2 linked regions of the Homo sapiens genome follow. The gene in region 2 interacts genetically with the main gene of each other region. Each region holds a gene or a part of one and is shown on either strand. Other genes may lie near its edges. The genes, in order: ROR1 and TOP1.

Region 1 (3,828 bases), on a different chromosome or scaffold from region 2:
CCCCTAACTTCAGCCAAGACTGTCTGGTTAATGGGCCTAAGCTTTAGCCATGGGTGCTGGCTGATGTTCTTTCTGGTTTCCCTCCAGAGGCCAGGCACCTCACCTGATCTGCTCTATAAAATATCTATCTAAAAACAACATGAGGGTTGCAGGGCACCTTGAAATCAGTGTAGTAGATGACCCAAGCAGTGTGTTTCCAGAGAGAACAAAAGAAATGTAAATAGATCTTTGTGTTTACTGAACAAAGGAGCCTTGCCACAAACAGGGAATTTGGTTTTAACTTTTCACTGACGAAGAAGAAGTTTCAAATTTGTTGGCCATCTGTAGCTGCTTACTTAGTAAGCAGAACGAGAACACCTGGGCATCCCAGCAAAGGTGTCCAGTCCAGAGGGAATTCACACTAGACTCAAGTAGCAGTTCTGCCACTCTCTAGCGATGTGTGTCAGACCATCACTTCACCTCCCTGGGCTTTGGATTCATAATCTGGGCCTTTGGGGTTGGGTCTGCTTCTTCTGAGACAGTTTGTGTTTCTATATGGGCAGCTGCAGAACAACTGGATGACAGGCAGCAGGTGTCCAGTGAGCTTGAATGCCAGACAAAGCAATCTGGCTTTTATGTGTAAACCTGGCTGTTTGTACCTTTTTCAATGGTTTGATTCAGTAGCTCTGATGATATGTGCTTGAGCTATGGAAGATTTCTCATCTTTTTTTCCCTTCTTCCCTAGACTGCAAATGTCAAGATGGCAGATGGTAAGTGGGAGGTAGGGTATAGTCTGGCTTAAGGGAAAAGTTCCAGTCCCACTGAATCCACCTCTAGCTCTGTGTCCCTGAACAAATGATGCCTTCCAGTGCTAATACTAGTAATAATGATGATGATGACACTGACAACAATAATGATTTCATAATGATGGTGGTAATACCTAACACCTAAATGGTATTTATCATCATGACAGTTATTGTTATGAACATTTTACACATGGAAAACAGAGAGGGTAAGGCACAGAGAGGGTAAGAAAGTTGTCCAAGATCACACAGACAGTAAGTAGAAGTGAGATTTTAAACAAATTATTTTGGCTCCAGAGTCCATGCTGTAGGATAGAAGTTCTCAAATTCTTTGGTCTCAGGACTCCTAGATAATCCTTAAAATATTGATGCCACTGAGGGGAGAAAGTTTTAAAATATTTGTTTATTAACCTATTTAAAAATAAAAACAATCCCATTGCTTAACATAAATATTTTAATAAAATATTTAGTAAAATAATATTTTCCACACGCGTATACCAAAAATAGTGAGAAAAGTGGCATTTTTTTTTTATTATTGAATATCTATTATTGTCTTAAAACCAGACAGCTGAAGCCTCCTGTTTCAGCATTCAATCTGTTGAGGTATGTTGTTTTAGTTGAAGAAAATCTGGCTTCGCACAGTTGGAAAAGGGAAGGGTTTTTAATAGTCTTTCAGATAATTTAGGATATTCTTCTTTGATACTACACCAAAATTCGATAGGTGGTAGTTTCTTAAACGTTGGTTGCAATGTGAAATCTGAAATCATATCAATAAACTTTTCATAATCTATTAAATTATAATGGATTGATTTATCTTGTACTTTGAATGGTTATTCTACCTACATACGATTTTGTAACATCATGCATTGCCTGTTTAGAGAACACTGGTTTACTGAGTTACGTTCGTTTTCAAAATGTGGACACCCTTACTTATCTAATATAGAAAATTCAAATGCATTAATATCACCACCAGTGCCATCAGTTATGATTGGGAAGAAGTTGTCAAGCTCGTGATGGTGGCTAAAAGTTTCGCAAAATTCTAACTTTTTCTGGAAAGTTCAAATTTTATTATTGGCAATTAATACTACTGTTTCCTTCAAGCGGCAGGTTCATTTTCCTCATTTTAAAGAATATTCAAGAATAACTAACCATAATTTTTCTGTCGGTCATTCTTTAAAGTAAAAGTGGCTAGTTCAGCTCAGAACTCAAATGCTTTTCTTTGAGACAGTCATAGTACTTGGCAGGAGTACTTTACGTATACTGCCCATCTGCCATATGAAATATTAAAAATCTATGTATTCAAGGGTCAAGATTTAATACAATTAATAATTTTTACTGCTCCATGGAAGATATTCTTAAGTGCAATTGGCTTTTTTTTTCTTTTCAACTACAAGTATATGGCAGTGGAATGTACAGTGACCACTAGTTTGGTACCGTTGGTGCCATTGTCTGAATTTGTTTGAGCAGTTTCACCCACCATTGCTTTTGCACAATTAGGATGGGTAAACCGCAGTTCAGAGGACTTAACAGCCTATCCCAGAGTTCACAGCTAATAAAAGGCAAAGCCAGGATTTGGACACCAAGCCCAGCGCTGTTTCCATCACACTCCATAGCTGCCCTTTCCCAGCCCTCAGGGTCCTAGACTGGTGTAAGGCTTTCAGAACAAAATGGGTTAGCTCAGGCCCTGAACGGTATGAGTCAGAGAGCAGAGTGGCTTGGATGGCATGTTTTCTATTTCCGAACAAGCAGTTTGGGGCTTTGGGGCAATCCCAAGCGATTGTGTCAGATCTGGGCAAAAGTTTAGGACTCTGAATTAAAAAGGATTTGTTACCTTTACAATGTAGGAAAATGAAATGCCAGTATCCTTTTAGTGCCACCATCTTCTCCCATTAACAATGGAAAGTGATGATCATAGCTAACATTTTTCTGAGCATTTACAAAATGCCAGGCACTATTCTGAGCATCTTACACACTTTAATTTAAACTTGACAACAATCCTATGAGGTAGACTCTAAAACTGACCACATTTTAGAGATAAGGAAACTGAGACACAGAGAAGTTAAGGAATTTCCCAAAGTCACACAGCCAGAAAGCGGCAGAGCCAGGACCCAAACCCACGCCTTTGAACAGCAGAGACCATATTATGTTCTGATGCAATCAGATTCCCAATCAATCCAACCTGTAGTCTTTCATTGTCCTTTGCACCACTCATAACCTGAACTAAAAAATATTCTTGCCTTTTTATGAGTCCATCAAGCATGTGACAATACCCACTGGTACTGAAAACAACTAAATCACCACTAGTTGCTTATGACGTAACTGGAAGTCATCATTGAGAATGAGCTTTTTAAATACAGTGCAGGCATGGTCTGTACTGAGGCTTAATGAACCAGAAAAAGCAAACTGCAAGAAAAAAGTTATTTTATGACCTCTCTGGGAATTGAGACTCTATTTCCTCCTTTTTACATTTTTTGTATTCCCCTCAGCACTTCATGTGTTATTGTGAACTTCATAGGCATTTAATAAACGCTGGTTGATGAAGTAAATGGAAGGCTCAAGTGAATTTTAGGCAAATTAGCTTTGGAGACACCCCATTTATTATTTACCCACTTGACAAGATGTCACATCCACAAATCCACAAATCCTTCCCAACATTTATTACTTAATTTTCAAAGTGCCCCCATCTCTCCTCAGGGAGGAAGGTGGGGCCAAGTGTTATATTCCCATTTTGACAGGTGAGAGAAACTGAGATATAAAGAGTTGAGCAGTCCATTGCCATGGCAACCCAGCCAGTCAGCCGAGGAGCCAGTCACAATTAGGTTTAGGGCCTGGGTCTTGGTATCAAAAGAGGCACATGCCAAAATCCTAGCCTCCCACATGACTGATGCTTTTCAGAAGAGGGAGGAGGTTCCCAACATGAAATGAAATGCTTAGCTAAACATAAAGGAAGGCTGCCAAACACAGTTAGGTCATCGCATTTGACTTGGAGAGAACATTCTGTTCACGCTATCAACCTGCATTCACTTTCAGCACACTTCACCATAAA
Region 2 (3,828 bases):
ACACACATTTCATTTGGCCCTGGTGAACCTACCCAGATGAGACTGCAGGAAGCCAGAAGTATGTAAGACATTAGATTTTACAACTTGTTTCAGGATATACAGAAACTACATTCCCTTCTCATAACCAAGAGAGGTGAGGAAGTAGAAGACATCTGCAGAGGCCAATATACAATCACCATACTTCAACACATTCTGACCACTGGACGTTAAGCAATATGAAGGCAGGGCCTACGTCTATCTTGTTTACCAACATAATTCCTAGCATCAAATGTATACTGTGTGGGGCACATTTGGGATTTCAGTAAATATTTGTGAATTAATAAATAAGATTACAATGTGACCAAAAAAATGGAGGCACTGTAGGAAGATCACCATAATGCTAACTATGAAAGTACTTGCCTTCTTTCAATGGGGAGGATTTTTAATTTGTCAAAGTGATTCTAGAGGACGAGAACGTTACATTTCAACAAAAAAAGGTTATCAGCACCATGAACCAGTGCAGCTCTCAACTATCCCCTTACCTTGATTCGTGAACTAGGGTTAAGCATGATGTATTTAATGGAACCTTGGATGTTCTCTGTCCAGGAAACCAGCCAAGTAACCTTGTTATCATGCCGGACTTCTTTCCACTTATGTCCTGGAGGAGGAGAAGGAACCTTGGCATCTCTGGAAATAACAGAGCACGAGGATAGTGAAATAAGATGTGAGGAATAATTTCACCTTTCATGACCCCAAGTGGACCTATCTGCTGAGCATAATTTTCCAAGTTTCCTTCTTAACAGTCAATACAGTAGTCCCACCTTATGCATGGTTTTACTTACCCTCAGCCAACTGTCATCCGAAAATATTCAATACAAAATTCCAGAAATAAACATTTTGTAAGTTTTAAATTGCACATCATTCTGAGGAGCATGATGAAATCTCTTGTAGTCCCACCTGGGATGCGTGAACCATATATACAACATACCATGCTGTATATGTCACTTGCCCATGGGTAACCTAGTAGCTGCCTTATTTATCAGGTTGACTTTAATGGTTTTACATTGCTTGTGTTCAAGTAATCCTTCTTTTACTTAATAAAGGCCCCAAAGTGTGAAAGTGGTGATGTTGGCAATTTGGATATGCCATACAGAAGCTGCACAGAGTGCTTTAAATGAAAAGGTGGAAATTATCGACTTAATAAAAAAAACTGTATGGTGAAGTTGCTAAGATCTAAGGTAAGAATTAACCTTCCATCTGTGAAATTGTGAAGAAGGAAAAAGAAAGTCGTGCTAGTTTTGCTGTTGTGCCTCAGACTGCAAAAGTTATAGCCACTCTATGTGATAAGTACTTAATAAACATGGAAAAGACATTAAATTTGGGGGTGGAAGACATCAACAGAAATGTGTTCCAAGTGACAGCAATTGGGTCGAAGTTGCAGGCATCCACTGGGGGTCTTGGAACATATCCCCTGTGGATGAGGGGAGACAACTGTACCTCAAAAACATCTGGAGACCTACGCATGAAATACTGTCCTGCTCTTAAGTATCTCCCTTCCCAAACAGTCCTGTGTAACCTGGGAAATATTCCCAAGTACAATAAAGGACGCCCTCCACCCCCTTTTTGGCCCATAGGATGAAGTGCGAGCTCACTTGCTACAGTTGATGATTATATCCTCGGGCATGATTCGTCTCTTCAGCATGCCCATCTTGGGGTGGTTGCCGCGGCCACGGAAAAGTCCAGGAGGCTCTATCTTGAAGTTAGCAATCCTCTCTTTGTGGTTATCCATAATACAGAATCCATATTCTTTCAGTAATTTTTCATTCTCCTCTTTGATTTTCTGGAAGACAGCAAGAAAGTACTCAAAATAGATTCAGATTGCTGTTCTCTACTAATGCATTTTATCTCTTGTGGGAGACTAAGTCAAGGTAGAGGAAAGTCTGAAAAATCACTAAAAAATAAATTCAAATAAAGGAAAACCTCTAGTGGTTTTCTCAAACTTAAATATCATAAAATTCCCCAAAAAGATCTGCCTATAAGGATTGATTTCAACTAGATTCAAAACTGATTCTTGTGTCTTAAAGGATATATGTTTGTAAATGTTATTTGGGTGTTTTTAAATGTACTTTAAAAATTCATACTGTTTTACTGAGTACTATCAAAACAGGAAATGGAGAAGAGTCTCTGATAGAGCCTCATAAAAGAATAGCTCAAGCCATTTAATTAAACAGCAGTTAAACAGCTTAAAAACGTGGGTTTTTAAGCTCAGACAGATCTGTCACTAATTTTTTTGTAGGTATACAGGTATATACACTCTATACTATGATCCTTGCTCCAAAAAGGTGAGGGATGGTGGGGGAGATTTTGAGCCTCCTTACCCTCTATTGACTCTGCGTTTTATATACTTATTGATTCAGTTTAACTAAGTTGTGCTGCCTTGTGGGTGGGAACAGATTCAGACCTTGCTGGCAGCAGGTGTCCTTGGCAGAGGCTCTGACAAGGGGATGTTTATAAAATCTATCTTTGGATCAATATTCTAAGAACAAAGCTCCAAAGTGATCTTTTAAGTTTCAAAATGCCCCTGAAGTAAATAATATACTAAATTTCACTAACTTGGAATATTGAGGATAAGATTTACCTGAGACACAAAGTCTGATGCAATTAACATTCTTATAGTAATGCATTAATTTTTAAACTAGTGACCAAATAAGTACCATGAAACAATGAGTTATATCAATACAATGGTCTGAATTACGTAAACACGCAAGTCCTTTAAAATACTGAAACTACAGGAATTTGAAGTGCAAAGAATTCCTTAAAATCCTTAACTTCTGGACTTCCGATTGGTAAAAATGAAATTCTAGCCTGGATTCCTTTAGTTCAGGGGCTGACAACTTTTTCTAGATAGAAAATATTTTAGGCTTGAGTGCCACACAGTCTCTTTTGCAACTACTCTCTTTTGCAACTACTCATCTCTGTCATTGTTGCATAAACACAGCCGTAGATAATATGTAGACAAGTAGAGGCAGCTGGTTCCAATAAATTTTTTTTTTTTTTTTTTACAAAAACAGGCAGCCTGTAGAAGAAAAATGACATCCCAGCTGGATACCAGAAAGATCCTTCAGTAATGAGGATGGCCAAGGCTGGAAGATGGAGATGGATGAGCATCACAAGATTCCAGAGTAAAATAGATCAAAGAGCAGGGAGGTACATGGCCAATATGATTTCATCTGTCTTAAATCCTTAATATCCAGTAGCCACTGTGGGACAGGTCTGCCCATCCTTAATTACTATATTATTGGCTGGAGTTACTGACTGGTTTTTAGGTCACTGAAGCACCAAGATTCCTGTACAGAGCTACTGAGCAAAGTACTTGTTCACAATTTTCAGTCTAACTAAAACCTTTAAGAAAATTTAGACTTTGAGAACTCTAAGTCTTTAGCATAGAATGATGTGAAATTACTGATGTTAATGTTGTGTCATAAGAACCAAGAAGAAAGTTAAATGAACCAATCACAATTCCAGAATTCTCCAGAGGTTTAATAAATTCTGTAGTACCAGTTTCTCTTCCTTGCTCATCTGTTTCCGAGCTTCCGTCTGGGCTTTGAAATACTGGCTCATCTGGGTAAAATCACATTTGCTTAGGTTGGTGATAATATTCTTCTCTTCATTAGTCATTTCCTAGTCAAAAGAAAATGGGGAGATGAAAGAAAAACAACGAAAATACACTAATAAGTCCTTGGGTTTCTTTGCAAATACACCCAAGCACCATTTTTTCAGTCAAAGGTTTCTGGAAGTAGCCAATCTCAATTAATGAATTTTGAAAAAACAAAAAAATACAGTTGTATT

What was found.
Region 1: changes in TOP1 (region 2) and ROR1 together harm fitness more than expected from each alone (negative genetic interaction), as found in Homo sapiens cells (one large-scale study listed by BioGRID).

The regions. Positions count from the first base shown.
Region 1 is NC_000001.11:64,042,817-64,046,644, reverse strand, and holds part of ROR1 (inactive tyrosine-protein kinase transmembrane receptor ROR1 isoform 1 precursor), read right to left. Parts: intron 1-3,828. UniProt on the Homo sapiens protein: Has very low kinase activity in vitro and is unlikely to function as a tyrosine kinase in vivo. Receptor for ligand WNT5A which activate downstream NFkB signaling pathway and may result in the inhibition of WNT3A-mediated signaling.
Region 2 is NC_000020.11:41,098,047-41,101,874, reverse strand, and holds part of TOP1 (DNA topoisomerase 1), read right to left. Parts: exon of another isoform or gene 3,661-3,828; coding exon 3,538-3,660; exon of another isoform or gene 3,051-3,537; intron 1,820-3,050; coding exon 1,632-1,819; intron 1,218-1,631; exon of another isoform or gene 1,083-1,217; intron 704-1,082; exon of another isoform or gene 667-703; coding exon 522-666; intron 1-521. UniProt on the Homo sapiens protein: Releases the supercoiling and torsional tension of DNA introduced during the DNA replication and transcription by transiently cleaving and rejoining one strand of the DNA duplex.